Homo sapiens: one gene and its partners. The protein of the gene in region 3 purifies or fractionates together with the protein of the main gene of each other region. This does not show direct contact. Each region holds a gene or a part of one and is shown on either strand. Other genes may lie near its edges.

The links.
Region 1: the proteins of CD300C (region 3) and FAM210A purify together in Homo sapiens (affinity purification with mass spectrometry; 3 studies listed by BioGRID and IntAct, with this or other methods). This does not show direct contact.
Region 2: the proteins of CD300C (region 3) and ATP12A purify together in Homo sapiens (affinity purification with mass spectrometry; 3 studies listed by BioGRID and IntAct, with this or other methods). This does not show direct contact.

Annotation. Positions count from the first base shown.
Region 1 is NC_000018.10:13,666,500-13,676,925, forward strand, and holds part of FAM210A (protein FAM210A), read right to left. Parts: intron 5,475-10,426; coding exon 5,363-5,474; intron 215-5,362; coding exon 1-214. UniProt on the Homo sapiens protein: May play a role in the structure and strength of both muscle and bone.
Region 2 is NC_000013.11:24,688,767-24,699,192, reverse strand, and holds part of ATP12A (potassium-transporting ATPase alpha chain 2), read right to left. Parts: intron 9,932-10,426; coding exon 9,818-9,931; intron 8,856-9,817; coding exon 8,721-8,855; intron 8,590-8,720; coding exon 8,472-8,589; intron 8,230-8,471; coding exon of another isoform or gene 8,212-8,229; coding exon 7,943-8,211; intron 6,765-7,942; coding exon 6,566-6,764; intron 6,407-6,565; coding exon 6,297-6,406; intron 4,750-6,296; coding exon 4,615-4,749; intron 536-4,614; coding exon 343-535; intron 1-342. UniProt on the Homo sapiens protein: The catalytic subunit of a H(+)/K(+) ATPase and/or Na(+)/K(+) ATPase pump which transports K(+) ions in exchange for Na(+) and/or H(+) ions across the apical membrane of epithelial cells.
Region 3 is NC_000017.11:74,541,996-74,552,693, reverse strand, and holds the start of CD300C (CMRF35-like molecule 6 precursor), read left to right. Parts: upstream 1-6,578; 5' UTR 6,579-6,911; coding exon 6,912-6,972; intron 6,973-7,746; coding exon 7,747-8,085; coding exon of another isoform or gene 8,086-8,188; intron 8,189-9,456; exon of another isoform or gene 9,457-9,517; intron 9,518-9,706; coding exon 9,707-9,833; intron 9,834-10,698.

The DNA of each region.
Region 1 (10,426 bases), on a different chromosome or scaffold from region 3:
AGGAAACTTTTTCTTTGGTTTCTTGTAACTTTTCAGTGAGTCTATCTTTTGTTTCTTCCATTTTCTCTGTGATAAGCTCCTTTGTCTCTTCCATCCTGTCCTGCAGATACTCCTTGACGGGTGGCGGCGTGGACATGTAGCCATGACTGCGCAGATACTTCACAGTGACAGATGTTCCTCCCAAAGTCACGGTATACCGAGCAGGTGTTGCAATCTTAAGCAAAAAGCAAACAGAGGCAAATCAAAACCTGGTTATTACTGTCATCTTAAGCAAAAACAAGTTAAAATTAAAATTCTTGGTAATAACCCATCAGAATAAATTGCCTCATTGTTTCACAAAGCTAATGTAGTAATATCCTATATGGTTTTCCCTCCTAACAAGAGATATTTCTTCTGTAAACTCATTTTATGAATGTTTGTCCTCTACACAATCCTGACCCAGATAACAGAATCATAGCACTGATGTCCCTAATCGCATGCTAGTAAACTTGGGGGACAGGTCAACCTGGAAATCAGAAAGAGGACTCAGTACCAGTAAAAATAACAGAGGAACACATGTTTCTATTCCTTAAAAGCCCTGCCATCCTGCCAAATGCTTTCTATCTGGAGCTAAACTAGAACTGAATGTCTTCAAATGGTGAGAGGCAGAGCATGAAACCACTCTCTGTTGGGATTTAGGTTAGCTTCACTTCCAAATCCCTTTCCTTTGACTTTTCTAAACCTATGCTACCTTCTCATCACAATCTACCCTGAGTCTCAAATCCTAGCCACTAATTTACACAAGGCCAAAAGTAGTAAAATGGCACACCTGCTGCAGACATGCACAGGTTTAACGTTAATTGGAACTTTTAGGACCAATACTAAATAGCAGATGGATGACTGGTCAAAGAGAACCATACAAGTAAAAAGGCTGCATCATATTCTAAGTCAAAAATCAGGTTGGGTGCAGTGGCTCATGCCTGTAATCCCAGCACTTTGGGAGGCTTAGGTGGGTGGGTCACCTGAGTTCAGGAGTTCAAGACCAGCCTGGCCAACATGGTGAAACCCAGTCTCTAATAAAAGTACAAAAATTAGCCGGGCGTGGTGGCAGGCACCTGTAATCCCAGATATTTGAGAAGCTGAGGCAGGAGAATCGCTTGAACCCGGTGGCAGAGGTTGCAGCGAACCGAGATTGTACCATTGCGCTCCAGCCTGGGCGACAAGAGTGAAGCTACCTCTCAAAACAAAACAAAACAAAAAACATAGGTGTTGGCAGGTACAATGGCTCACGCCTATAATCCCAGCACTTTGGGAGGCTCAGTCGGGAGGGCTGCTTGAGCTCAGAAGTTCAAGACTAGTCTGGGCAACATAATGAGACCCTGCCATCTCTTAAAACACAAAGAAAAAGAAAGAAGAAAAAGAAAAGAAAAATACTTAGCCGGGAGTAAGTGGCATGTGCCTGTAGTCCCAGCTACTTGGGAGGCTGATGCAGGAGGACTGCTCGAGTCTAGGAGTTCGAGGCTGCAGGGAGCTGTGATTGCACGACTGCACTCCAGCCTGGGAAACAGCAAGATCCTGTCTCAAACGAAACAAAACAAAATGCATAGGTGTGTTGTATAACAAAACTTTGAAAGAGCTGTCTGCTCTATCTCTAATTTCTCTCCTAAACTCACGTTAAGCAAGCTTTCACCCATACCTCTTCACCAAAACTGCTTTCAAAGTCACAGTGACCTCTACAAAACTAAATCCAGTTGTCAATTTGGAACCAGCCCCTGAACCACTGGAACCATCCCACACAGCTTTCACCTTCCCTTCACTTGGCTCCAGGCCCTCAACTTGCTGGGCTTCCTTCTAGTTCATGGCGGCTTCTCATTTTTGCCAATTCCTCCCCTTTCACCCACCTCTGAACGTGGTGTGACAACATTCGATCCCTGGACCTCTTATTTTCTCTACCTATCTCACTCTCTGGTCTTTAGTGCCAACTATACATGGATGATTCTTAACTTTAATCTCCAGACTGAACTTTTCCCCTGAATTCCAGTATATACAACCACCTCCATTTGCATATCTAATAAGATCTCAAACTTAATGCAGGTGAGTCACTTAATGGGGATACGGTCTGAGAAATGTGTCATTAGGTGATTTTATTGTTGTGTGAAACTTCACAGAGTGTACTTACACAAACCTAGATGGTGTAGCCCTCTGCACACTCAGGCCACAAGGTATAGCCTATTGCTCCTAGGCTACAAACCTGTACAGCACACTACTGTGCCGAACACAGTAGGCAATTATAAGACCACAGTAAGTATTTGTATACCTAAACTATCTAAATGTAGAAAAGTTACAGTAAAAATATGACATTCATAAAAACATGGGACCTATGGGACCATCACTGTCTGTAGTCCATGGTTAACCGAAATGCTGTTGGGTGGCACATGACTGCATGTTCAAAACTGACCTTCGGATCTTCGACTGTCCTACTTCAAACCTGCTTCTCTCAAAGTCTTACTCATCTCAGAAAATGGCAATTCTATTCTTCCAGTTGTCCGGGCCAAAAACTTACAAGAAAGCTTCAACCCCTCTTTCTTTTCCATAATTTATATCCAAACCATCAGAAAACCCCAGCAACCACGTCTTTAAAACGTATCGAGAATCCAACTACTTCCTGCTACCACCTGGGTTCTGGCCACTATTGCCTCTCAACTAAAATACTGTAATCACCTCACCTCACACCAGGTCCCTTGGCTTCTCCCCTGATCCCGCCATGGTCTGTTACTAGAGCAGCCAAAGTGATTTTGATGGAACAGAGGCAGGATGCTTAAAATTGTCCAGTGGCTTTCCATGTCCTCAGGGTAAAAAGCAAAGTCCTTTTAAGGGCCAACAAGGCTGTCCTGATCTGATGACACGCCATTCTCTGCCCTGTTCACTGATTCCGGTCACACTAGCTTCCCTGCATCCCTCAAATACTCCCAGGATCCTGCAGCCTCAGAACTTTGTCTTTCGGATTTTCTCTGTTTGGAATGCTCCTCCCTCTTGGAGGAGCAACTCTCTCACCTTCTCAGCAAGGTGTGCCATCTCCCATTGAAAAACAAATCCATACCCCCATCCCTGGTTTCCTTTCTTAGCAGTTACCATCATCTACGTACACACACTTTGTGTGTGCATGCATTTCTAACTTTACCTTGTCTCCCCAACCCACTACCACTCACTACACTATCAGCCCTATGAGGCAGGTATTTTGCACTGTCTTCTTTGATTCGTTTATTCCCAGTACCTAGAATGGTACCTAGCACACAGCAGAGGATGACTAAAACTCTGGGTGTATTTCAAAGAGATTATGAGGCAGTCAGTGAATATATCCCGTAGCCAACTGCCACCAGACCATACATGCCATACTTCATTTGGGGACTTTGTCTTGTTGAAGCAATAAATCTGTGTCTGTTGCTCTATTTGAGAAACTGGGGGTTACAGATAATACAAAGGAGAATCCCCTCCATATCTCCTACTTCACAGAGGAATAGTGAGGGGGAAGAAACACCACTGGCACTCATCTCCCTACCATGACGCCTACAGCCTCATTTTCAATCCCAACTCCACAAACACGTGCTGAGCATTTTATTCACCTACAGAACATAATACCAGGTGCAGTGAAAAAAAACAAGAAAGAAGACATGATTCTGAGTTCCTGGGAGCTCCTAATCAAATAAAACAAACACTTAACACCTAGCACACACTGTGCTATCAACTGTCATGCTATGGGAGTGGGATAAGGAGCAATTAAATTAGGGAAGGTTTACATCAGCATGATAGTTTGACTTACTCGGGTTAAAATTATACCCACCATAATTAGAAACTTGATAATTTTTAAATTTAATACACTTTAATGTAGAAAAACTCAAAAATTAAATGTTAGCCCTCTCATCAAAATTATAATAAAAGAGGAAATCTACCAAGATTTCAGAGGATGCTAATGAGGATGACAGAATGAAACAATGCTACTTTTGAGTAATGCTGTAAAACTGTAATTCTTAGATATTCTTATACAACAGAAGTAAAATAAAACATCTAGTTTCTGTGTTTTCAACTTCCTTAGGTAGAAGTTTCACAGACCCTCATAAATATTTGTCAGTTTAGAAAATGAGATTAATATGGCTAAACTCCACAATTTACAGTGAGTCTTCCCTTCCAAAATAAAGACCCATAGGCATAGAAGCTATCAAGATGATGCTGTCAGGCCGGCTGCAGTGGGTCTCATCTGTAATCCCAGCACTTTGAGAGGCCGAGGGCGGGCAGATCACCTGAGGTCAGAAGTTTGAGACCAGCCTGACCAACATGGAGAAACCCCGTCTCTACTAAAAAAATACAAAATTAGCCAGGCATGGTGGCACATGCCTGTAATCCCAGCTACTTGGGAGGCTAAAGCAGGAGAATTGCTTGAACCCGGGAGGCAGAGGTTGCGGTGAGCCGAGATCGCGCCATTGTACTCCAGCCTGGGAAACAAGAGTGAAACTCCGTCTCAAAAAAGTTGTCTGAATCCGGAGAATAGTTACAAAGATTATCAACTTTTAAAATGAAACATATGTTAGGTTAAAATCTAACAGAAAAGGGTTTATCATATAAGACAATTTGGATTAAACCTATTTTACTTGCTAAGAAAAGATGAATTATTAAAAACAGTAAAATAGGGGGATCTCCTCTTTTGGCTTTGGAGGCCCCCCCCTTCTGTCTCTGTACAGGGGAGCTTCTTCCTTCTCCCTTCCTTCTTGCCCCTTCTTGCCTATTAAACTCTCTGCTCCTTAAAACCACACACAAAACAAAACAAAAAACAGTAAAATAAATGCTAAATTTTGCTAACAAATCAGGTGGCATGCAGATCACTGAATAAGAAAAAACAAATATAATTATACTTAAAATAATTATATCTCCATTTATCAACGGGAGCAATGTCAAACAGATGACTACTACCATGGAAAATCACATAAGTCTAACAATTATTTGACCACAGGAAGTTATGAATGATCTACCAATTTTTAAGGCATTTCTTCCTAAAACCACATTTTTACTTCCACTTTATTTTGTTATCTTGTTATCTCCCAGCTACTCGGGAGGCTGAGGTAGGAGAATCACTTTAACCTGGGAGGCGGAGGTTGCAGTGAGCCGAGATGGCATCACTGCACTCCAGCCTGGCAAACAAGAGCGAAACTCCATCTCCAAAAAAAAAAAAAAAAAAATTATCTTACATTATTCACCAGACATATCAGAGATGAAATACAGCGTTTCAAGTTACGAAATACAATTGGAAGCTAACATGGAATCTCATGGGAAAGTGAGCAGGTCACCACCAGTGAGTTCTGAGGAGCAATGGGTTTGTTACAGTACCCACCTTAAACAAGGCATATGCTGTGAGGGCATTTCCACTCTGGGAGTTTTTCAGGATGCTTACCACACTGTCAGGTAACCCAATGAGTTCTAGAAAAGGAACGACATTCACTCCTCTACAAAAAAAAAAAAGTAATTTTCATATGTACAAACTTTTAATGATATTTTCAAAAATTATCTGAAAATACCAAAACCACACTATAATTTTATTAAATTTTGCTTAAAAGTTGATTCTACATTATCAAGCACTTTACCTTCACTCTAAGAGAACATCTTACTTGATGTACAATATGCAACATGCACACAAACATCACATCACACGGTATCTTATCGCCTACAACTTCTATTTGCTTCATGTGGGCATCCTAGTATGTTTAGAAAAATAGAGGCAGTTATTAGAATAAAATTAACAGCTTTAAATAAACTATGAGAAAAGGATCAGAATCATTTGCCTGGTCTTAGTTTCCTCAACCAAATACCACTTCCTTAGAATGCTCCAACTCACATTTTAAGACCTAAAATTTTTACCTTTAAAATTACATGGTTTGTTAGTTTGTTCTGTTCTGTTTTGAGACAGAATCTTGTTCTGTTGCCAGGCTGGAGTGCAGTGGCGCAATCTTGGCTCACTGCAACCTCTGACTCCCTGGTTCAAGCGATTCTCCTGCCTCAGCCTCCTGAGTAGCTGGGATTACAGACACGCAACCACCACGCCTAGCTAATTTTTGTATTTTTAGTAGACATGGGGCTTCATCATGTAGGCCAGGATGGTGTCCATCTCCTGACCTCATGATCTGCCCGCCGCAGCCTTCCAAAGTGCTGGAATTACAGGCATGAGCCACAGTGCCCAGCCAATTACATGTAATTTTATGTGTAAAATTGCACTGTAAAAGCAAGAGATATTTTAACATCACTTTAGTCTGTTATTATGCAAAGAATAAACGACACTATGGGTTTGATGAAAACTTCAATTACTCTAAAAGGATGCTTCTATTCTATTAAAAGACTTAAGGCAGGTGAAGGAGCAATTAACATATACCGCGACAAATTTCTGGAGACAGGAGAGAAGGCAGAGAAAGTCTCCAACTTGAGCCGCAACTTCTCCGTTTCCAGCTTCCTGATTATTAACATTCCTGAGACCCGACTTCTTTTATTTCCAGTTTCCTGATTATTAACATTCCTGAGCCCTGGCTTATTTCCAGTTACATTCCTGAGCCCCGACTTCTTTATTTCCAATTTTCTGATTATTAAGTCTTGAGCCATGACTTATTTCCAGTTTCCTTATTAACCTTCCTGAGCCCCTGACCTATTTCCAGTTTCCTGATTATTAACATTCCTGAGCCCCGACTTCTTTATTTCCAGTTTCCTGATTATTAACATTCCTGAGCCCCGACTTCATTTCCAGTTTCCTGATTATTAACATTCCTGAGCCCCGACTTCTTTATTTCCAGTTTCCTGATTATTAACATTCCTGAACCCCGACTTCATTTCCAGTTTCCTGATTATTAACATTCCTGAGCCCCGACTTCATTTCCAGTTTCCTGATTATTAACATTCCTGAGCCCCGACTTCATTTCCAGTTTCCTGATTATTAACATTCCTGAACCCCGACTTCTTTATTTCCAATTTCCTGATTATTAACATTCCTAAGCCCCGGCTTCTTGATTTCCAGTTTCCTGATTATTAACATTCCTGAGCCCCGACTTCTTTATTTCCAGTTTCCTGATTATTAACATTCCTGAGCCGTGACTTATTTCCAGTTTCCTGATTATTAACATTCCTGAGACCCGACTTCTTTATTTCCAGTTTCCTGATTATTAACATTCCTGAGCCGTGACTTATTTCCAGTTTCCTGATTATTAACATTCCTGAGCCCCGACTTATTTCCAGTTCCCTGATTATTAACATTCCTGAGCCCCGACTTCATTTCCAGTTTCCTGATTATTAACATTCCTGAGCCCTGGCTTCTTTATTTCCGGTTTCCTGATTATTAACATTCCTGAGCCCTGGCTTCTTTATTTCCAGTTTCTGATTATTAACATTCCTGAGCCCTGGCTTCTTTATTTCCAGTTTCCTGATTATTAACATTCCTGAGCCCCGACTTCTTTATTTCCAGTTTCCTGACTATTAACATTCCTGAGCCCCGACTTCATTTCCAGTTTCCTGATTATTAACATTCCTGAGCCCTGGCTTCTTTATTTCCAGTTTCCTGATTATTATAATTCCTGAGCCCTGGCTTCTTTATTTCCAGTTTCCTGATTATTAACATTCCTGAGCCCAGGCTTCTTTATTTCCAGTTTCCTGATTATTAACATTCCTGAGCCCTGGCTTCTTTATTTCCTGTTTCCTGATTATTAACATTCCTGAGCCCCGACTTTATTTCCAGTTTCCTGATTATTAACATTCCTGAGCCCTAGCTTCTTGATTTCCAGTTTCCTGATTATTAACATTCCTGAGCCCCGACTTTATTTCCAGTTTTCTGATTATTAACATTCCTGAGCCCTAGCTTCTTGATTTCCAGTTTCCTGATTATTAACATTCCTGAGCCCCGACTTTATTTCCAGTTTCCTGATTATTAACATTCCTGAGCCCTAGCTTCTTGATTTCCAGTTTCCTGATTATTAACATTCCTGAGCCCCGACTTTATTTCCAGTTTTCTGATTATTAACATTCCTGAGCCCTGGCTTCTTTATTTCCTGTTTCCTGATTATTAACATTCCTGAGCCCCGACTTTATTTCCAGTTTCCTGATTATTAACATTCCTGAGCCCTAGCTTCTTGATTTCCAGTTTCCTGATTATTAACATTCCTGAGCCCCGACTTCATTTCCAGTTTCCTGATTATTAACATTCCTGAGCCCTAGCTTCTTGATTTCCAGTTTCCTGATTATTAACATTCCTGAGCCCCGACTTTATTTCCAGTTTTCTGATTATTAACATTCCTGAGCCCCGACTTCATTTCCAGTTTCCTGATTATTAACATTCCTGAGCCCTGGCTTCTTGATTTCCAGTTTCCTGATTATTAACATTCCTGAGCCCCGACTTCTTTATTTCCAGTTTCCTGATTATTAACATTCCTGAGCCGTGACTTATTTCCAGTTTCCTGATTATTAACATTCCTGAGCCCTGGCTTCTTTATTTCCTGTTTCCTGATTATTAACATTCCTGAGCCCTGGCTTCTTTATTTCCTGTTTCCTGATTATTAACATTCCTGAGCCCCAACTTCATTATTTCCAGTTTCCTGATTATTAACATTCCTGAGCCGTGACTTCTTTATTTCCAGTTTCCTGATTATTAACATTCCTGAGCCCCAGCTTCTTTATTTCCTGTTTCCTGATTATTAACATTCCTGAGCCCTGGCTTCTTTATTTCCTGTTTCCTGATTATTAACATTCCTGAGCCCCGACTTCATTATTTCCAGTTTCCTGATTATTAACATTCCTGAGACCCGACTTCATTTCCAGTTTCCTGATTATTAACATTCCTGAGCCCTGGCTTCTTTATTTCCAGTTTCCTGATTATTAACATTCCTGAGCCCCGACTTCATTTCCAGTTTCCTGATTATTAACATTCCTGAGCCCTGGCTTCTTTATTTCCAGTTTCCTGATTATTAACATTCCTGAGCCCCGACTTCATTTCCAGCTTCCTGATTATTAACATTCCTGAGCCCTGGCCTCTTTATTTCCAGTTTCCTGATTATTAACATTCCTGAGCCCCGACTTCATTTCCAGTTTCCTGATTATTAACATTTCTGAGCCCTGGCCTCTTTATTTCCAGTTTCCTGATTATTAACATTCCTGAGCCCTGGCTTCTTTATTTCCAGTTTCCTGATTATTAACATTCCTGAGCCCCGACTTCATTTCCAGTTTCCTGATTATTAACATTCCTGAGCCCTGGCTTCTTTATTTCCAGTTTCCTGATTATTAACATTCCTGAGCCCTGGCTTCATTATTTCCAGTTTCCTGATTATTAACATTCCTGAGCCCAGGCTTCTTTATTTCCAGTTTCCTGATTATTAACATTCCTGAGCCCTGGCTTCTTTATTTCCAGTTTCCTGATTATTAACATTCCTGAGCCCGACCTCTTTATTTCCAGTTTCCTGATTATTAACATTCCTGAGCCGTGGTAACTTCTTTATTTCCAGTTTCCTGATTATTAACATTCCTGAGCCGCTGACCTCTTTATTTCCAGTTTCCTGATTATTAACATTCCTGAGCCGTGGTGACTTCTTTATTTCCAGTTTCCTGATTATTAACATTCCTGAGCCCCTGACCTCTTTATTTCCAGTTTCCTGATTATTAACATTCCTGAGCCCCGACTTCATTTCCAGTTTCCTGATTATTAACATTCCTGAGCCCCGGCTTCTTTATTTCCAGTTTCCTGATTATTAACATTCCTGAGCCCTGGCTTCTTTATTTCCAGTTTCCTGATTATTAACATTCCTGAGCCCTGGCTTCTTTATTTCCAGTTTCCTGATTATTAACATTCCTGAGCCCCTGACCTCTTTATTTCCAGTTTCCTGATTATTAACACTCCTGAGCCCTGGCTTCTTTATTTCCAGTTTCCTGATTATTAACAGTCCTGAGCCCCTGACCTCTTTATTTCCAGTTTCCTGATTATTAACATTCCTGAGCCCTGGCTTCTTTATTTCGTTTCCTGATTATTAACATTTTGCCATGATGGCTCTTGCTCTCTTTGGACACTGTGACCCTTCGCCCCTAAATCAGAACGAAGACATTCACCTACATAAGCATCACATTTATAACATACACAATAGTCTACAGTTAATATATAATCTAGATTACAGTTTCCTAAATTGTCCCAGTATGTCCTTTATGGCTATTTTTCCTGTCTCTCTAGTCTGCTTTTCTCTAGAAGTGCTTCTCAGCATTCTATGGTGGAGGAGGGCAGCATGCAGGCTGGCTACTTGGAAGGACATCTCTCAACTTGGGTTTGTCTGATTGTTTCCTCAAGAGGAGATTCACGTTAAGTACTTTCGCACAGGAAAACGACAGAATGGACACTGTCCACCTCAGCACATCACAACAAGGGACACATAAAGCCAGTCTGTCC
Region 2 (10,426 bases), on a different chromosome or scaffold from region 3:
CCAATGTGCCCCACGCCGTTCTGCCTCTGTGATTGGCCTGTGCTGTTCCCTGGGCCCTGGATACTTTCCCCTATCTCCCCTCAAATGCAGTCACTTAAGGCCCAGTTTGAAATTTAACTCCTTCCATAAAGTCTTCCCTGAGCTTGCCTCTCTGGAGGCCATCCCACCCTGCTTGGTGCTGTCACACAGCATCCTCTCCTTGTTCCCATCCTGCTTATCATGTTCTCCTTTACATGCTTCACGTGGATGCCATGGCCACTGGGCTAGGTCACAGGTCCTCAAGGCGCCTGCCTCATCTCTGTGCCCACCAGGTGATGGGCAGGGCCCTGCCGCCGCACTCACCCAGCACACGCTCGCCCAACCCGCCCAGCTCCATGTAGGCTGTGTGGAAGGTCTTGGCAGTGCTCTTGTCCAGTGGGTGCTCCTCGCCGTTGATCATGATGGTGCTGCATTTCTCTAGGATGCGCTCAGGGGCCCCCTTCATCACCATGAGGAAGCGCTTGCCGTGGGGGTCATCCATCTCGTGGATGGAGAGCTGGGAAGGAATGAACTGAGCGTGTTACTTACAGAAAGGTGAAACGCATTCCTTCTTCTCTACTGGTCCATTAAATGTAAAGGAGGAAGAGGCACAATGGCATCCTCAGCATGTTCCGCCCTTTTTCTTTCTGTGGCCAAGTAAGACGAAGAGCTCTAGACTTGGCCCCAGCCCAGAGTGGGGCACCCACTCTGGATAAGTGGAGCTCATCTTTCAAGCAAAACTGGCTGCTTTAGGCAGGCTAGTTGTGGCCGTCAGCGTGTGAAATCTTGTGCCTTGAACAAGATCTCCCAGGGTGCCCGTGAGAGTTAGGGGGCTGCGAGCCTCTGCATCTCACCTCCTCTACCTCCCTGTGGGGAGCAGCCGTCTTTCAGACCCAAACTATTCTGAGCTCAGGAGGGGAGGAGGCGACAGGAATTTCTGCACCTCCTCACCTCATTGTCCACCCAGTTTTCCTGCTTGGATGTCATAGAAAATGGCGGGGTGTGAGGAAGTGGACACTTCCACGTATAATGTTTCAGGAAGACAGCCGAGTCACAGGAGTCTCCATTTTAATAGGAATGCTCTTGACCCAGCAATTCTACTTCTAGATCCATCCTAATAAGATATGCAAAAAAAATCGATATACAAGAATAAAAGGACTAACTCTTATCTAGCCCTTCTGATAAGCCAGGTACTCTTCTAAGCACTCAAGAGGAATCTCAGGAAGCTGGAGTGTTTGGGAGAAAATAAGTTGCAAAGAAAAGTGCTACAATTTTGGGTAAAACAGTTCTTTACAAATCAGTATTTCTTAGACTTCTGGGTATCAAAGATGAGTACAAAAAGAAGTATAGGGCAAATAGGGTTACCAGCTGCTGCTGCTGCTTTTTTTAATGATCAAGTAAAGACATTGAGAAAACCAACCAACCAACAAAAACCAAACCAAACAGAAAACCTCCCAGCTCTATCACTTTCTAAAATATAGGCCTTTTCTTTTTCTTTCTCTCTTTCTCTCTTAAATTTTTTTTTTTTTTTTTTTGAGACGGGGTCCCACTCTGTGCCCCAGGCTGGAGTGCAGTGGCACGATCACAGCTCACTGCAGCCTCGACCTCCCAGGCTCAAGCAATCCTCCCACCTCAGCCTCCCAAGTAGCTGGGACTACAGGTATGTGCCACCATGCCCAGCTAATTTCGTTTTTTGTTTTTTTTGTAGAGATAAGGTCTTGGTATATTGCCCAGGCTGGTCTTGAACTCCTGGGCTCAAGCAATCTGCCTTCTTCGATCTCCCAAAGTGCTGTGATTACAGGTGTGAGCCACTGTACCTGGCCAAGATAAGGCTTTTTACATTTAAAACATAGGGATAATATGAAACACTTTTATGGTATGTACCACGTGCCAGGCACTGTTCTAAGTGCTGTCCACATCGACTTATTTATTCTCAAAACAACTTTAAGGCCATGGGTACTATTATTATTCCCTTTTACAAAGGAGGAAACTGAGGCACAGAGGTTCAATGCTTCACTCAGGGTCACTGAGCAATAGGTGGCTATCTGGTGGCTGAGCTGGGATTTGAGCCCAGGCTAGCAGGCTCCAGAGTCCCTGCCCTTAATCATGGTGGCTACAAAGGATAATCTTTTAAATTAAATACATTCATCTTTATATAAAACTTTATAAAACATTTTCCAATTTGCCGTAAACTGTTTCAAATGTCTTAACAGACCAGTGTGTTTGGGGCATCACCATTCTAATCAATAAGACACAGGCTTTCCATTTTATTTCCTTCCCGCAGAGACGTCTCCTTCCAAGGCCATGACATCTAAAGCCCTGGTGAGGCTGAGCACCGCTCATGTGTAGATATAAAATGACCCTAACAGCATCCAGACAGCACCTCCGACCTCTTCAGCAGGAACTCACACAGCCCCTCTCCCCTTTCTTTTTTTTTTTTTTTTTTTTTTTTTTTTGAGACGGAGTCTCGCTCTGTCGCCCAGGCCGGACTGCGGACTGCAGTGGCGCAATCTCGGCTCACTGCAAGCTCCGCTTCCCGGGTTCACGCCATTCTCCTGCCTCAGCCTCCCGAGTAGCTGGGACTACAGGCGCCCGCCACCGCGCCCGGCTAATTTTTTGTATTTTTTTTTTTAGTAGAGACGGGGTTTCACCTTGTTAGCCAGGATGGTCTCGATCTCCTGACCTCATGATCCACCCGCCTCGGCCTCCCAAAGTGCTGGGATTACAGGCGTGAGCCACCGCGCCCGGCCCCCCTCTCCCCTTTCTAGTCCCACTCTGTGTAGCCACTTTCTCCTCCAACTTGTACATGAGGCCTCATGGAACCTGCTTTTTCTCCCTTTTGCAACTGGGCATGCCTTTACCTTGGGAGATGGAGCTTCAGCAGGGCTCCAAGTCCTGCTGCTGATGGAGGCATCATCTAACCCCATCTTCACACTGTGCACTGATGCGCGGCACCTCAACCTCCTCATCCTCTAGCCACCCCACAGTGTTGTCGTGCGAATGAATAATTTAATACTTGTGGAAATTAGCACAGAATAGCTCCTATTATCACTAGTATTATTAGTATAATAATACTCATCCTAAAACAGTCTTTTAGGACTGTTGCGCACTCTATTTTCACTTTGGTTTTACGTAAGAGATGTGGTTTCTTGGCTTGAGTATTTTACATCATATGTTTCTGGTTAGTTGTCTATTTAGCTAACTGTGATTCTCTGTTGGCTCACTATCCACAAAGAAGACATTTGCAACACAAGAGTTCTTCTCTAGGCTGGGCTTGGTGGCTCACGCCTGTAATCCCAGCACTTTGGGAGGCCAAGGCGGATAGATCACCGGAGGTCAGGAGTTCGAGGCCAGCCCAGCCAACAAGGTGAAACCCTGTCTCTACTAAAAATACAAAAAAATTAGCTGGGCAGGGGGTGCATTCCTGTAGTCCCAGCTACTCAGGAGGCTGAGGCAAGAGAATTGCTTATACCTGGGAGGCGGAGGTTGCAGTGAGCCGAGATCGTGCCACTGCATTCCAGCCTGGGTGACAAGAGTGAAACTCCTTCTCAAAAAAAAAAAAAAAAAAAAAAAAGAGTTCTTCCCTAACCCTAAATTCCATCCGAACTAAGACAGGTGGATAATCACCAGAAATCTCCACACGTACAGTTGTGGTTATTCCATTTCTATACTTTACTGTTGTGCAAAGCCCAAGTCCAGATCCAGTGTGGGCTCTGTGGAAAATCCCATCTGCATGGGGACCTGGGGCTCCCAACTGTCATTTGTCTTAACATGGGGAGGCTGTGATGGCTGACTGTCGGCCAGCCCTGCTTGCTGAGATAACCAGGCAAGGAAGGCCGTCTTCTACCTGAGCAGGGGATGGAAAGGAGACCCCCACCCACAGCACAGGGGCTGGCCCCAGAAAACGACGGGGCTGTCACCCCAGGGGCTGCTCACCGGTCTCCCCAAAGGGCAGGGCTTGCTCCCATGGCCTGAACTGTGCCGCACTCCCTCTGTGTGATGGTGGAAGAATCGTGGACCTGGTGTCAGGCTTGGGAACACTGGGTGCTGTGTGACTCTGGTCTCTCAACACTTTCTAAGGGCCTGCTTCCTCCTCTGAGTCAGGATTCGTCAGTCCTACCTCACAGGCCGGATGCGAACATGGAACAAGGCCACGTAGGTCGAGGGCCTGATGCACTAGAGGTGAGAGGAGCAGGTGTTCGGCCTCCCTGCTGCCCACCTGGCATTTATGCTTTGGAGTATGGCTGCTGCTCCTCACGGCAGAAGGTACCTGATAGTGGTGGTGTGAGTGTGTGTGTGTGTGTGTGTGTGTGAGAGAGAGAGAGTGTGTGCCTGTGACAGAGATGGCTCATTCATAGGAGCAGCCAGGCCCTGATGAAGTCCTTGCCTTTCTTTCTTTCTCTGCCCTGCTTCAGGGTTAGGAAGGAGGCCAGCAAGGGAGCTTGACCTAGGGGACCAGATGCCTGGGTGCTGTATCCCTGACGACTGTCTTTGAAGCCAGGTATCCTTCAAAATATGAGGTAAGCAAAGGATGCATGCAAGTAGAAAGGTCATGCTGCCGATGACAGAGATTACCGGTTGTGAGGAAAAACTCACCTGAAATTTATTAGTAGAGTTAAAAGGGATTTCAGCTACTTTGCGGTTTCTTTTTCTAATTTCCATCACATCACCCAAAATGACCTCTGAGAATTTTAAAAGAGCAGTTTCTGAGGCATCTCCAATCACAGCTTTCTGGGAATCAAAGAAGAAAAATATTTGCAGCACATATTTAATGAACCAACATGCCCTCAGCATAGGACCCAAAACACACCCTCCTGATCCCATTACCACCTAGCTGGAGAGACATTATCACGTGATCAGGGAGGGCCGCAAGACCGTGGTAAGCGTGTAAACAACAGTGCCACCTACTGGCATTAGGGATGTTTGGAGAAGCTGGACCTCTGCGAGGACTGAAGATTTCGTGGAAAAAAGCAGCTACGAACTAGATCTTGATAGATAGGTGGGTTACCGATACACAGAGAAGAAAGCCTTCCAGAAACCAGGATGCGGGTGCAGGGGCATGAGGGGCAGGCTCGTCCGTGAGTGTTCAAGGTACAAGCGGATGTGGAGGGTGTGGCAAGACCTGGAGGGCCCTGAAAGGTAGCCTGAGGTCTAGACTTGAGAAGCAGAAAACAGGGAAGTACGGAGAGATTTTGAGCAAAGTTAAGTGACTATAAAAGCACCATTAAGGGAAATTAGTGGCATTCGAGAAAGACCCCAGGAGGGATAAACCGGAATCAAAGAGGTTTAATTCCAATCAGCCGGTAATCGGCTATTTAGATGCAAGGTACTGCTGACAAATACTAAAGTTATGTATATTTTGAAGCAAGAATGATAGAACTTGGTGGCTTACTGGATATAAGGAAAGGATAAAGTCAAAGATGACTTCCAAATATTCTGTTCCAATGACAAATAGAATGGTTATATCATAGACAATTAGAAAATTGCGGCAAGGCACTGATGTGCAGCCAGGCTGGGTACGGGTGGAAGTTAACAAGCATGATTTGTGCAACTTCCTAGCGGAAGCACACAGCCAGCCAGAGATTCGGGTTGGAGTTGAGGTAAGAAATTAGAGCTGGACATAAAGATTTGGAAGATATCGACAAAGAAGCAATTGGCCAAAAAGAGCATTCATGAGCTGTCTGACGGAGAGAAAAGCAAACAAACAAACAAAAAAATAAGAAAGAAAAAGAGTCAGGGAAGGAAACAGATGGCAAATAGAAAAGCCAGGAGAACAGGGATTCAGTGACTCATTGAGATGGAGAGGAAAAGGGAGGAAGGGAAGGAGGAGAGGGAGGGAGGGGGAGAGTTTATTGTATGTTCCGATATTCCAGGACCCCTTAGAGCTTTGTCTGCAGCCATATTCTAGTTAACAGGAGTCCTTTTATTTTTATTCAATCACACTTTAAATTTCCATGAATGGTGTGTATATTAAAAGGAACTTTGATTATATCCACTTAGCTGGCAGAAAAGTCAGGAAAGTAACTTAGAAGTGCATTCATTTCCAGAATTTTCTGAAGACGCTAAAGCAATATTCTGAAACCTTTTAAGCATCTTTGTATTCTCAAAGCTAGTGTGCATAAAGAAAAATTTCTGGATGTCTTGTGAGTCTGACTTGCTCTTGCAAGCACTGAACAAACTTTAAGCAACTGGAGAGATGAAATCAAGCACCCAATCAGACCTCAGCAAGTGACTACAAACTGGCTGTGATTTAAGACCAAGTGCTGCAGAAGCATTACCTTCATGATGGGGACATTTTCCTGTCCTGGCTTGAACTCTGCTCGGTTACACAATGTTATTATCTTGGATAAGGAGGCCCAAGTCCTAGAGCTTTGGTCAAAGACTTGGTCTGGAAGACAGAGAAAGAACAGTGGCTGCTGTGGGTTGGGCTGGCCGTCCATGAGTCACTGTCCAGCAATCCTCTGGCTGCAGACCCTGCTGTGTGCTCAGCTCAGCCCCAGGATGGAGTCCACAGCTTTGGCCAGACCGAGCTCTCCATAAGACTTACTTGAATGGTCCTCACTGGTGTCAGCCACAAAGATCTGATTGTCGAACCACAGATGGGCCACTGTCATCCTGTTCTGGGTCAGTGTCCCAGTCTTGTCCGAGCAGATGATGGAGGTGGAGCCGAGGGTCTCCACAGCCTCCAGGTTCTTCACCAGGCAGTTCTTCTTGGCCATCCGTTTTGCTGTCAGCGACAGGGTCACCTAGCAGGAGAGGGAAGGACGCTTTGGGAAAAATCCTCATTTGAACTCAGGTCCAATAATACAGAAATAGCCAATGTGAGCTGTGATTGAATTTTAGGAGAGAGCTGGACTAGTTTTAGGGGAGAGGTGTGGTTGTCAGCGCAGCTAAGCTGACCTGGTGGCTTATACGCCGCCAAGAGCCCTCTATGCCACAATCCTTTTTTAAAGATTAAATATGAGATGCTTTTCTTGTTCCTTCATGACTTGAAGAAAACAAGGGACCCACGGGCAGCAAACACGGACACGCTGCTGTGGCTCGTGTTCACGTACAATCACGACGCCTCCTGTGATCCCTAAGCAGGAGTGTGTAAGAGAGACTGACCAGTGCATGCCAAAGAGTTGTCCCAAAGGACACACTTGTTGCTTTGGGGAATTCAGCAGCCTTTATGTTGTTTCATTTTAAAAGCTCCATATTTTAAAGATTCTTTTAAACCCCTAGATCTCAAAGGGTTCTTTTGGCTCCAATTTCCCCAAATTACTATCTCCTGGAGTCAGAGGAGACCTGGACTTCAAAAACTTCTTCTCTTTTCTTTGGTCAGGACAATAGCAGGCCAATGATCATGTAGTCACAAAACTGGAAACATAAACCCCCTCCTCTCCTACCCCTTGAGACCCCCACAGGAGAGACTGAGGAGGAGGGGGCTCTTCTCTAGGGACTGAATGACATGGGCCCATACAAACAGCTGGGTCTGGGGTTGGCCAGGAAAGGGCTGGAGTCCTCGGCAGGAAAAATGGGAGGAATTTTTTTTTTTCGTAAGAGAGGTAAGTGGAGTGTGGCAATGTGCCTAAATGCCTAAGTTGTAGAAACTGCCAAAGAAATGTGCGGAAGGCATCAAGCTTCTAGAAAACCTGTGAATGGTGGAGTCTGTCTTATCTAGATCTTATGGGGCAGAGTAAGCTGTGTGAATTGCAGATTGAAAGCATAACGTTTTCAAGGAAAACGCAGTCAAATATTGAAAATATGACAAATTTTTTGTCTCTGTAAGGAACAGTCTATGCAGAATGTTCCAGGGTTGTCGCTGGCGGGGAGGGCGTGGTGCTCTGGACTTGGGGGAGATTGCAGTTTGTGTGGGCGCCTCCCCAGCACCAGTGCTGTGTCCACAGGGCCAGGTGCAGGCTGTCTAACAGCATGGACTCACAGTGACAGTGGCCAGGAGGCCCTCGGGCACATTGGCCACAATGATGCCAATGAGGAAGATGATGGAGTCCAGGACTTGATACTTCAGGGACACAGCGATGATGAAGAAAAGGATGCCGATGGAGACAGCCACTCCTGCCACAATGTGAACAAAGTGCTCGATCTCAATGGCAATGGGCGTCTTCTCATTTCCAACTCCTGAGGCCAATGAGGCAATATGGCCAATGATGGTGCGGTCACCCGTGTTGATAACCATGCCGGTGACAGTGCCTACAGGGGAAGTAGATGCTTTATTCCAGGGGTCCTCAGCCAGGAGGGGTGTGCAGCCAGCTTGCAGCCCTCTCTGGGGGCTGGCACAATCGATAGGCACACCACATTCCCAAGGCCAAGCATCGTCCTCTAGGCCCTTCAGTTCCATGCTTCCTCTGGGATGAGCTTTGTAACGGGGTGTGGCAAAGGACAGACCTGAGAGCCCAGGAGGGAGAAAGGACACAGGTGGACATGTGGGCTGAGAGCCAGAGGCCTTTTACCTTCCAGACACGTTGTGGAATAGAAGCAGATGTTCTTTGTTTCCAGGGGGTTTTCATGGGTAAACTCAGAGGAGCGGGGCTGGGGCTCAGACTCCCCCGTGAGAGATGAGTTATCCACCTAGAAGAAATGTTGAAGGTGGTTCACAGCTGGGTACCTCATTCCCTGCCTCTTATACTGATGCTGGGAAAGACCCCAGAGCCAGCAGGTTTGGAACATGGTCCTTGGGGTGGATACCCCTTGCCGCTTACCCGACACCCCTGAGAAGACAGCACCCTGATGTCTGCAGGGATCTGGTCTCCTCCTTTGACCTCCACAATGTCCCCCACCACCAGCTGCTCTGAAGGGATGGTCTTCTTCTCGGAATCTCGGATGACGAGAGCTTGCTGCAGAAAAAAACCATGACAGATGCCTCAGACCCTGGAAGGACACCGGCCCTCCCCCAAGTCTGTGCCGCACCGAACCCCAGGACAGAGGCCTTGGAACTTCCTGATCACTCTCACTGTTGAGTCCATGCTGTTATGCAGCCTGCACCTGGCCCTGTGGACACAGCATTGCTGCTGGAGCATGAGGCTGTCAGAACAGCAAGAATGAAACAGAAGACTGCTTCACCCGAGGCCTGAAGACTCTAAGAACTACTTTTTCTTGAGCTTATGGAGAGTTCTTGGAACAGAAGAGTCGCTGTTGGCCAGATCTGGCCAAGCCAGAGCCCTGGGCCTCCTAGAAAAGGAGACCACTAAGGGTGAGCAATCCTGGCTGGGCGTCTGGGCAGAACACTGAAGGTGGGGCTGGGGAGGCTGATAATCTTGCGAGTGTCAGGGAAATTTTAACGAGGTGATCTCCTGCTTCAAGCTTGGCAGGAGGCGTCTTTTCCACCCAGAATCTCTCCAGCCCACAGTTCTCTGGGCCAGAGACAGTGTGGACACCTGACAGGGGTTTTTGGGGAAGAAGGGAGCACTGGGCTTCCCCACCAAATGCATTCTGGGGCTCAGGAGCAAAAATGGTCACAGATAAACAATTGCAGGCTGGTCTCCTTGGCTGCCAGTGAAAGAACACTCCCTGACCTTCCACAGGTCCCTTCCAGAACCCAGAAGGACTATCCACAAACACTGAGGAGCAGGAACAGAAGATGCCTTGGGCTAACCAGCACTGCCCTGGGTGGTGCCTCATTTGACCATCAAAATCCTGTGAGGAACTGGGGTTCTGACAGATGGGTTAATTCGCCCACGATTGCTCCGACAGGGAAGGAAGTGGAAACCCGTAGCCCTCAGGGCCCTGTGCCCCTCCCAGCTGAGGCTTCCTCACCTGGGAGTCACCAGAGGCCAGAGGATAGGTGGCTGCCACTCACCTGAGGGATCATCTTATTGAAGCTGGACATGATGTTGGTGCTTTTTGCCTCTTGGTAATAAGCAAAGATCCCCGTTAAAATGACCACCAGACCAAGCACACAGCCCAAGTACACCTGGGTGAGAAGGAGGGCGTCAGTCAGAGAAACCAGCAGTGGGAAGCAGCCGGGCCCTGGGGCTAGAGCTCTCCACGGGAGGATGCAATGCTGGCAGTTACGCCCTGGTATAATTTACAGGCCATGGAATTCGCCCATGTTAAGTGCGCAACTTATTGATTTTTTTTTTTAAGTTTACAGAGCCATGACACCACCCTCCACCGCAGCCTCAGAGCATCTCCATCCTGCCTGGAGATCCCTCCGGCCCCTCTGCCGTCACTCCCTGCTCCTGTCCCATGCCCTGGCATCACCGATCTGGTTCCTGCTTCCAAGGATGTGCCTGTTCTGCACATTTCATGTCAATCCAATCCTATGACATGTAGCTTGTTGCCTCTGGCTTCTGTCTCTTGGCATCACGTTGGCCAATTCAGTTTTGTGGATTTGGTACTCATGTCTCGGCAGGCACAGCTGCTCTCCGTGTTAAAGGAAGAGGTTAGCTTGGGGGAGACAGAACCC
Region 3 (10,698 bases):
TCCCATCTCCAGCCTCAGACTTGAGACAGGGCTGGACAAGGAAGCAGATAGGGAAAGAAAGCAGAAGTGGGGCTCAGACCCTGGGAGAGGGGACTCCACCTTGTCCTACCAGAGCCTGATGCAGTGACAAGTGACATCTGAGAAGAGGCCACCAGGGATCGGGCTGCTCGGCTACTGGCAGCTCTGTTCCTCCTGAATGTCTCAGGTGGGTGGGCCCTGGACATGGAAGTAGGGACATGGAGAGAGGGCAGGAGGACAGAGGAGCATCAAGGAGCTGTCAGCAGCTGCCTCACTAGCTGAGTGCCAGGCTCCAGGGCACAGCGCAGGTGAGTCATGTTCCACTGCATCCTCGACAGAGAAGGCCCTGGGGGAGAGGTGCCTGTGATTGTCATTGCCACAGTTATCCAATCCGAAATGCCATCTTGATGAACCACACATACAATCATAGATGCATGCACGTGCACACACAGGCATGCACACGCACAGTGTTTTCCCAGTCCATGCCCTTCCTGTCTCCATGGAAACCCCCCTCCCCGTTCCCACCTCTGCAGGGAGGGAGCTACTCACCCCTCAGTTCAGATTCCTGGGTGGACAAGGGCTGTCTGCCTGCCACTGTCTCCTCTACAACCCCAGGGTCCGAGAGGCCCTGACCCCAGAACATCCCTGACCCAGGCCCATCTGAGGAGAAGCTGGGACTTTGGCTTGTATTTTCCAGGCTGTTTTGCTGTGGGCGGCCCCAGCACCATGACAGACACCGCAGTGGGGATCCCTGAATGTGCAGTGTCAGTATGAGGAGGAATACAGGACTTTCAACAAATACTGGTGCAGACAACCACTTTTTCTACTATGTGACAAGACTGTAAAGGCTGGAGAGTCAGCAGGAGTGAGTAATGGCTGAGTGTCCATCAGGGACCATCCTGCAAACCTCAGCTTCACAGTGACCCTGGAGAGCCTCACAGAGGAGGATGCAGGTGGATATTTGTGTGGGGTCAATAGACTATTGCTCCAAGAATTTCAAGATCTTGTCTTCCAAGACCTTGTCTTCCAGGTGGAGGTGTCGGTGTTCCCAGGGGAGCCCCCTTCACTCAGCACCAGGCCTGTCTGAGTCTAGGGCTGGTCATTCTGTCCCTGAAGTGAGAAATGGGACAGGAGTGTGTGAGGTTGCAGGCAGTGACTTAGGACACAGTGTCTGTGTGTGCATGCATGGGTTTGCTGTGTGTGTATGCACAGGTGTGTGTGTGCGCACGCATGCACAGGTGTGAGTTGTGTTTGTGGTGTGTGTGTGTGCGTGCGCAGGTGTGGTGTGTGTGTGCTTGCACAATTGTGTGGTGTGTTTGTGTGTGTGCACCCGTGTGTGTGTGTGCTGACATGCACAAAAGCACATTTGCACCTGTTGTTGGAGACTCCTCTGTGTGCCCCACCCTGAAAGTGTCTGGCCTTGTGGGGCCACCAGCCTGGCTGACATTTGGGGTTGAGTGGACTCGGGTCCCATCATTCAGGGAGGGCCCCACTGACTTCCTGTCCTTACTTCCAGTTCACTCCAGCCACTGCCATGCCCAGGGCCCTGGCTCCGCAGTCACTCTAGGTCACGCTTCACAGAGTGAATGTCACCCCTCCCTCCTTGGCTGGGATGGGGTCTGCAGCCAGGTCTTCTTTCCACAGACTCTCACGTTCCCCTAGAGAGCAGGTTGACTCTTGCCTCTGAAAGTGCTCATCTGGCTATGAAGTACTTGGGGATAAGACTAGGGAGGGGCCCAGGGCCCTGGTCCGGCCTGCGTGTGGCCGTGGAACGTGTTGGACTCAGGGCATCTGTCCAGCATGTACTGAGTGATCGTGTCTGTGGAAATCAGAGCTGAACAGGTGATGATGAGTGGGAGACTCAGGCGAGGTCGCCGAGACTGACCTGTGATGCCCCTGCAGCCCTGACAGCGGCCTCCAGTCTCAGAGCTCCACGGGCACCTCGGGTCCTCCCGTTACGTCCCAGCGTGCACCTGGCCCAGCTCTACCAGACAGGACAGCCCTGATCCCAGCCCACACCCAGGGTAAGGTTCGTGCCCCCAGGACTGCCACCTGGGCAGCCTTTCCTGTAGGCTGGGGAGAGATGGGATGGTTGTGTCTCTCTTCTTCTGGTCCCTTCTTTGCTCACGCCTCCCACACCTAATGTGAAGGTCCTACTAAGTGCCAGGTGCTCCTGTCAGGATAGGGTCACAGCAGGGAACCACTCAGCCACAGTCCTGCTCTGGTGGAGTTTGGGTTCTACCAGGTGGATTCACACAGTGAACAGGTCAGCACAGTGGCTGACAGACAAATACAGCGAAGTTTGATGACTGCTGGGAAGAGATATTTGTGCCTTGGGTTTGGGGAGCATGTGTGTGGGTGTTGGAGTCGCTATTTCACTGACAATGATCAGAAGAGGGTTTGTGGATTAGAGGACATGAGCGTGGAGACCTGCAGGATTTGGGAGCAGGGCGCTCTGGGGTCTGGGGGAAGAGGGGTCCAGGCAGAGGGAGGAGTGAGGCAAATGTCCTGCAAGGGAGTCCTGGGACCCGGCCAGGCCAGGGCAGGGGGCAGATGTTTTGGTGCCCGGTGACCCCGGCCCTCTCCCCTGGCCTCCCTTGCAGCCCTGGCCCGAGTCTCATCCTGTTTGATGAGCCCAGTCCTCTGAGGAGCTGAGAGCTGAGCTGGGCCATTCATTCATTCCTTCCATTCCTTCAACAACCATGAATTTTACAGGCTGATATTTGCAACCAGAGGGCAGGTACCAGTTACTTGTGAATAACATGAATAGTCCTCACCTTCTCGGGAAATGATGGCCATACAGGCATCAAACTACATGACTGATTCCATGCGCCAGTGAATAACCCCGGGATGTAGAGATCTTGTGGGTGTGGTTCTCACCTGGATCCCTCCCTGTCCTCATGCACCATTTTCACGGCCACGTGCTTCCTTATAGGCAGTCCTGAGACTCCAGGGACTCTCAGGCTGAAGGTCAGGGTCTAATGATCTCTTTAGAGGAGTTGTCATATACAGAGTTTGTCCTCACAGGGATTTGTGTGGCCACAGGACCTGGGTTCACAGACAGGCAGAAGGTGGAGGGCACCTGGGCTTCCCCTGGGGAGATGACTCACTGCCATCACCGTGTCCCCACAGCTCCCTGTTCAGCAGCCCCTACGTCCTGCTCCTGGTCCTGGAGCTGCCCCTGCTCCTGAGCATGCTGGGTGCCGTCGTCTGGGTGAACGGACCTCAGAGAAGCTCTGGAAGCAGGCAGAGTTGGCCAGAGGGTGAGAACCAGTAGCATCTACTGTCCATCAAGGCCCTGCACTGCGACAGAACCCCTTTGCGGGACTGGAATGACCTCCTGACCACTCCCTCCCGGGCTGCTCTCTCCACATCTCCTGGAATTCTCTGTGAGCCTCCTTCAGCCTTTTCCCTGTGCCTGATCCATGAATCACACGTGAACCTGATGGACACAGACGCCCTGAGCTGTGACTCCATGTCTCATGTGCACGCCCTGGCCAGCTGAACCTCGAGCTGTCACCAACACCTCTAAGTGCCTGATGCCCTCTCTGCACCTTTCCATTTCTCCAGGAGCTTGGCATTGCTTCCTTCAACGTTTTCACAGGGAGGAGCAGGTCCAGGACTCCCCTGCACCTTTGCCACCATAATGGCCCACACTCCCCGGGTCCAGGAGTGCAGAATATGTGGCTGCTTCCATTTGCTGAGTGTGTCAATTCAATGATGCTTTCGAACTTTAAGAAATGACAATACATAGATTCTGGACCTATCATGCCCACTAAGTCAGACCTGGGTGAAAACTCCATTGTTCCCTGATCTCCACAGGCCTTTGCTCAGAATAGTGGACTAAGCCCCAGGCTGGGCCTCTCAGGACTGGGGTCCCTGCAGAAGAGGATCCAGGATTCCCCCCAAAACCTGACAATTCCGTTCCTTATGTAGACACATCCTGGCCAGTGTCTTCTGGTCCCTGCGGGAGGGCTGGTAGAAGATTATCAGTGTGAGTTGTGGCATGGTAGCCAGGCCTTTCCTTCCTCCTTCCTCAAGGGGACCTGACCTCCCCTTCATTCCAGGGCTGTGGCTTTTAACTGACTCAAATATGGAAATTGGTTGAGGGCCGTGACTTCTTAATGTGGTAGTTAACTGAGTCTTTTGCTTACTAGTGCAGACCATGTCTGCTTATCCAGACAAAGGAAGACGTTATCAGCTGACCATCGTTTCGGTTCCAGGGATGCCACACCCAAGACCCCTGTGAGGCAGATGATCCCCATGAGTCCACCAGGTCAAGGAGGGACACGCCTGGGGGTCCTCACCTATTTTTACATTCAGCAGATACTTATGGGAGCTTCTGGTGTATCAGACACTGACCTGGCATTGGAGTCCAGCCGTGAACACCCAGGCAAGGAGCTCTGTTTTCATTGAGCTCATATTCCAGGCGGGGGATAGAAATGATAAACAGATGCAAAAATACGTGCATAAATTCCAGAAGAAATATAAAAGTCAGAGATGAAAAGAGTCACGGAATGAAATAAGAGAAGTGGGGTGACTGCTGTGCAGGAGCTGAGGGGGACTGTGGTGAAGCCCCTCTAATAGGCGCTGAGCAAGCAGGGATCAGGAGAAAGGAGGGGGTGAGCGCCAGGATCCCTGGAGGAGGAGCCCTGAGGCAGAGAGAGGAGCAGGTGCACATGTCCTGCCAGGGGCAGATGCCTCCCTGGGTCAGGTGGCTTCAGGGCCTCCAGACAGCATTTCCTGTCTCCTCCCCAGCCTGGGCAGGAAATGGTGCACCAACTTTGGATGACTAAGTCCTCTGAGGCAGTGGGACATCAGGATGTCATGTATCCATTCACCCATTCATCCTTTCAACAGCCAGTTTGTTAAACTGCACTTGGCAGACTCTGGAATGATAACGGGCACAGCTGTGAATGAGACAAGAGGCTGCACCTGCTCTCAAGGGGCGGCCACCCTAGATGGGAGCAGACATTGACTCGCCAACAGAAAGACTGAGGAAGACGAGAGGGAAGTGTGAAATGGGTCATGAGGACCCCTAAAAAGCGAGCCACCATAACCCGGGAAGGTCAAGGAACACGCAGGCAACCCTGTCGGCTGGAGCCAGGCAGAGGAGTGGGAGGTTGAGGGTCTGGACAAAGGCCCGAGTGGGGAGGGTGGCAGCACCAGTGTGAACCTGGATCCAGGAGGCTGGAGACACCTACCAGGTGCTGGGGCCTGCCAGGACCTGTGTGCAGAGGCCAGGTCAGGTGGGTGCCATCCTGTGACAGCAGGAGCCATTGGGAGTTCAGCAGCGCCTCCCCAGGGCCATGTGTGTGTGTCAGGGATCACATTGCTGATTCTGTGGAGAATGAAAGGGGTGGGTATGAGCAGAAGGGGAGACCAGGTCAGCCCATGAAAGAGCCGGGATACTTCAAAGCCAGGCCCAGGCCAGACCTGAGCACTGGGCTAATTGGAGGCCCTGGGATTGCACTGGGCTAGAGATAGTCCCATGATGTGAGTCTGGGGGCATCAACACCAATGACCCCAGTGCATGCTGTGTCCCTGAGAGTGTAAATGGAGGGAGGACAGGGCAGGTCGAGGGTGCAGAGACCCCTTCATGGTGCCAGGTTTGCCCAGACTCCCATCACTCTCCACTCAACCTCATGGCTGTGTGCACATACTGGTGCTATTGACTCTGATAGGAAGAAAGGAACAGAAATCTGTAGGAGGGTTGGGAGAGTCAAGGAATATGCTTAAGGCATGAGAAGGTGGAGAAGGGGTGATGCCCTCCAGGACAGACAGGAGGTAAATCCTGTGTCTGACTAGCCTCCTTGCCCTTTCCAGGGTAAAGACACCCTGAGCCCATCACGTCAGGAGAACCAGCCATGCCGAGTGTGGATAGACCTGGGTTCCCGCCTCCTGGGAAGGCCTGTCTGCCATGTCTGCTCCCTGCGGAGGCCCCTGGCCATCACAGTGGACCCAGGATAGACACCAGCAGCCGCTGCTCATGACAAACTGTCCTCTCAGTCACCAAACACCCCTCCGTGTGCCCTGGGGTGTGTGCTGGCTCAGTCGCAGCCTCACATCCTCCACAAAGTCCCACTTCAGCATCTTCACATGTCTGAACTCTCTCTCTATTCTCAGTTCTCTGCCCTGATTCCCACTGGGGCATGGATTTTGGCAAGAAGACAAGATGGAAAAGGAGGGTCTCGGGTGGGTGATGCCGCTGTGTGTGTAGGTCTGGGGGCAGGGGCACAAGAGGAAAACTCCCCAAGCCTGTGGGATTTTAACCTGGTTGGGGACTCAGCACCAAAAAGGGACATGCAGATGGTGTCTGGGTTCATAGCGCTAACTTCTGAGGCCAGAAGAAGAGCTGGGGGTCTTAGGGGCAGAGGTCTCTGCGGGGACCTAGCTGAAGATTAAGGGACACAACCTCTCTCTGGTCACCTCCAAGGCTAAAGAAGGTGGCAGATTTAGCCTCCAACCACAAGATTGTCCATCCTGACCAGGAAGTGACATGTCACAGAGGGTGGAGCAGCCCATGTGGTAGGAAATGGCCCAGCTTGGCTCTGCCTTCTGCAGTGTGAGTAACACACTGAAGCCAGAAGCTGTGGGCTGTGGGGAAGTGGCTGCATCGCCACCCAAGGGACCCTGGACTTTGCCAGACGTCAGGGTTGAGAGGAGCCACTAGCACCATCCCAGAGCTGTCAGCACCGGCCTCAGCCCAGGCGGCTCTCTCCCTGAGCTTCCTGTACCCTGACCCTCTCCAGCCTCAGACCTGAGACAGGGCTGGACAAGGAAGCAGAGAGCAGAAGAAAAGCAGAAGCGAAGCTCAGATCTGCTGGGAGGAGATTACATTTTGTCCCCTCCTGGGGTCTTGCACAGTGGCAGGTGACATTCGTGTTACAGGAATGACTGCCAGGGCCTGGGCCTCGTGGCGGTCTTCAGCTCTGCTCCTCCTGCTTGTCCCAGGTGAGTGGGCCGACCCTGGACTTGGGGAGCTCTGTCCTGAGTGGGAGAGGGCAGGGAGGGGTGCAGGCGCTGGAGTAGCGGTCATAGAGGGGAGTGGGGCAGGGAGAGGGGAGGAGGGCAAAGGAGCACCCAGGAGCGGTCAGCAGCTGCCTCACCAGGGGACAGCAGGCGGCAGGGCACAGCACGGGGGAGGCCTATTCCTCTGTGCCCGAGACAGGAAGCCCTGGTGGGAGGTGATGCTGTGACTGTCATTGCCAAAGTTATCCAATCACAAATTTTATCTGGGACGATCACACACACAGTCACACTCACACGCACACACGGTCACACTCACACAGTCTCACACACATGCACACACAGTCACACTCACACAGTCTCACACACACATGCACACAGTCACACATGCACACACAGTCACACTCACATGCACACACAGTCACACATGCACACACAGTCACACACAGTCACACTCACACAGACAGTCACACTCACACAGTCACACACACAGAGTCACACTCACATGCACACACAGGCCCGCACACACCCAGTGTTTCCCTAGCCTTGCCTTTCCAGTCTCCATGGAAACTTCCCATGCCCTTCCCACCTCTGCACAGAGGGAGCCTCCCACCCTCAGTCCCTGTTCCTGGGTGGACAAAGGCTGCCTGCCTGCCATTGCCTTCTCCACACGCCCAGGGTCCATGAGGGGCTGACACTGCGGCACCCCTGACCAGGCCCCTCTGGTAAGGAGACAGGATTTTGGCTTGTATTTTTCAGGCTATTTTCCTCTGAGCCACCCCATGACCGTGGCGGGCCCCGTGGGGGGATCCCTGAGTGTGCAGTGTCGCTATGAGAAGGAACACAGGACCCTCAACAAATTCTGGTGCAGACCACCACAGATTCTCCGATGTGACAAGATTGTGGAGACCAAAGGGTCAGCAGGGAAAAGGAATGGCCGAGTGTCCATCAGGGACAGTCCTGCAAACCTCAGCTTCACAGTGACCCTGGAGAATCTCACAGAGGAGGACGCAGGCACCTACTGGTGTGGGGTGGATACACCGTGGCTCCGAGACTTTCATGATCCCATTGTCGAGGTTGAGGTGTCCGTGTTCCCGGGTGAGCCCCTCCTTTTCTCAGCACCAGGCCTGCCTGAGCCTAGGGCTGGTCATTCTGTCCCTGAAGAAAGAAGTGGAACAGGAGGGTGTGAGCCTGGGGGTTGGTGAGTCAGGACACTGTGTGCCGCTGTGTGTGGATGAGTGTGAGTGCGTCTTTGTGTATGCGTGCCTGCATAGGAGTTGTGGTGTGGTTTGTGTGTGTGTGCACCTGCATGTGTGTGTTGGGAGGGTGGGCGCCCACAAAAGCACCCTGGCCCTGTGGCTGGAGACCCCCCGCTGTGGGCCCTCCCTCACGGCCTCAGGCCTGAAACTTTCCTGGGTGGGGTCTGTGAGGCCACCCCTGACTCTGGGGTCCTTGCTACCTCCCTGTATTGACAAGGGCCGGATCCATACTGAAGGGTGCCCACTGTCCCGCCTGGGTCTAACTCGCTCTTCCCCACGGGGAATTGGACCCCCCCATCATTGGCTCCTCTCACTCAAGGCTGCCCCTGCCCTGGGGCCTGCATGGATGCCGCCCTGTCTGGAGGGTCCTGAGGCCGCAGCCTCACAGCCCTGTCCTGGGAGCTCCTGCAGCAGCCACTGGAGGACACAGGAAGGAGCCCCAGAGCCCTGGGTGGGGTTCTCATGCTCCTGGGAACCACATCCTGCCCCTGAGGCTGACCTGTGTGTCCCCCTTATTCTCTGGCACCTTTTACCACAGGAGGGAACCCCAGAAATTGCCCCCTCAGGCAAAGGGACCTGTGGATGGAAATGAGCTGAGACTGGCACGGACCTGAGGGCCCTTTCCCGTGCCGAAGATCATTCTTCCCTCAAAGGCCCCCTCCTGTCTCACAAGACACAAACCCAGTGGCCTCAGTGTGGTTGCTTTTCCATCGTTTTCTTCTGACAATGTCCCAGGTTCCTCGGAGCATCTTCTTGTTCTCCATTTCCCCGGGGGCGACGTGTCCCTCCTGCGCCCTTTGTGCCTTCCTATCTAGGAGTGAGGAGCTAAGATCCCACCTGAGGGCGCCAGGGAGAGGAGGAAAGGGCCCTTATCCAGCTGTATTCACCACGGGCCGCCGCCCAGGCTTCACCGGGCATCCCCTCTCTAGATCTTTCTTCCTGGGCATTCCCTCCTGCTGAGAGGATGGTCCAATGGCCTTGTGGGGCCGCAGCATGGCTGCCATTTGGGGCTGAGTGGACTCGGGTCCCATCGTTCAGGGAGGACCCCACTGACTTCCTGTCCTCACTTCCAGCCTCTCTCCAGCCACTGCTGTGCCCAGGGCCCTGGCTTCGCAGTCACTCTGGGTCACCCTTCGCAGAGTAAACATCACCCCATTCCCCCAGGTCACCCTGTCCCTCCCTGGCTGGGGTGAAACCTGGAGACCCGTACCTTTGCCACAGGTGAGCAGGGCAGCTCTCACATCTGAAATGGTGTCCTGGCTCTGCAGTACCTAGGGATGGGACAAGGAGAGGCCCAGGACCCTGGTCAGGCCTGGGTGTGGCCGTGGGGCATGATGGATGCAGGGCATCTGTCCAGCACATCATTGGTGACCTTGTCTGTGAAAATTGGAGCAGAACAGGTGAGAGTAAGTGGGAGACCCATGTGATGTCATCAAGGTTGACCTGTGTTTCACCCACAGCCGGGACGACCACAGCCTCCAGCCCCCAGAGCTCCATGGGCACCTCAGGTCCTCCCACGAAGCTGCCCGTGCACACCTGGCCCAGCGTGACCAGAAAGGACAGCCCCGAACCCAGCCCACACCCTGGGTAAGGTGCCTGCGCATAGGACTGGGCCACGCTGGCGGCCTCCCCACTGCGTGTGATGTTTAGGGGACTCGGATGTCCCTTCTTCCAGTCCCTTCTTTGTTCGCACCTCCCACACCAAACGTGAAGGTTCTATTAAGTGTCAGGCGCTCCTTTTGGGATTGGGTCACAGCAGGGAACCACACAGCCACTGTCCTGCCCTGGTGGAAGTTGAGTTCTACTGCGTGGATTCACGCATTGAGCAAGTCAGCACAGAGGCTGATGTACAAATACAGCAAAGGGTAATGAATGCTGGGATGAGATGTTTGACTCTTGGGTTTGGGGAGAGCGTGTGCAGGTGTTGGAGTTGCTATTTCACTGACGATGATCAGAAGAGGGTTTGAGAATTAGAGGACATGAGCACAGAGACCTCAAGGGTTGGGGGCTGGGCACTCTGGGGTCTGGAGGAAGAAGGGTCCAGGTGGAGGGAGGAGTGAGGCAAATGTCCTGCGAGGAGCCTTGGGACCTGGCCAGGCCAGGGAAGGGGGCAGATGCTCTGGGGTCCGGTGGCCCTGGTCCTCTCCCCTGCCTCTCTCGCAGCCCTGGCCAGAGTTTCATCCTGTTTGATAAGCCCAGTCCTCTGAGGAGCTGAGAGCTGAGCTGTCCATTCATTAATTCCTTCAACAACCACTGAAGTTGTAGGGCAGATTATTGGAGACTCCGGGTAGGCAGCAGGTACTCACTGTGAATGAAACAAATGGTCCCTGCCCTCCTGGAAACGCTGTGTACAGGAGAGTTGACACCAAACAAATAACCCTTTGTGAATTCCGGGACCCCAGCTGGGTAACCCTCCATGGGGAGCACAGAGGTAGACAGCTGCGTCCTGGAC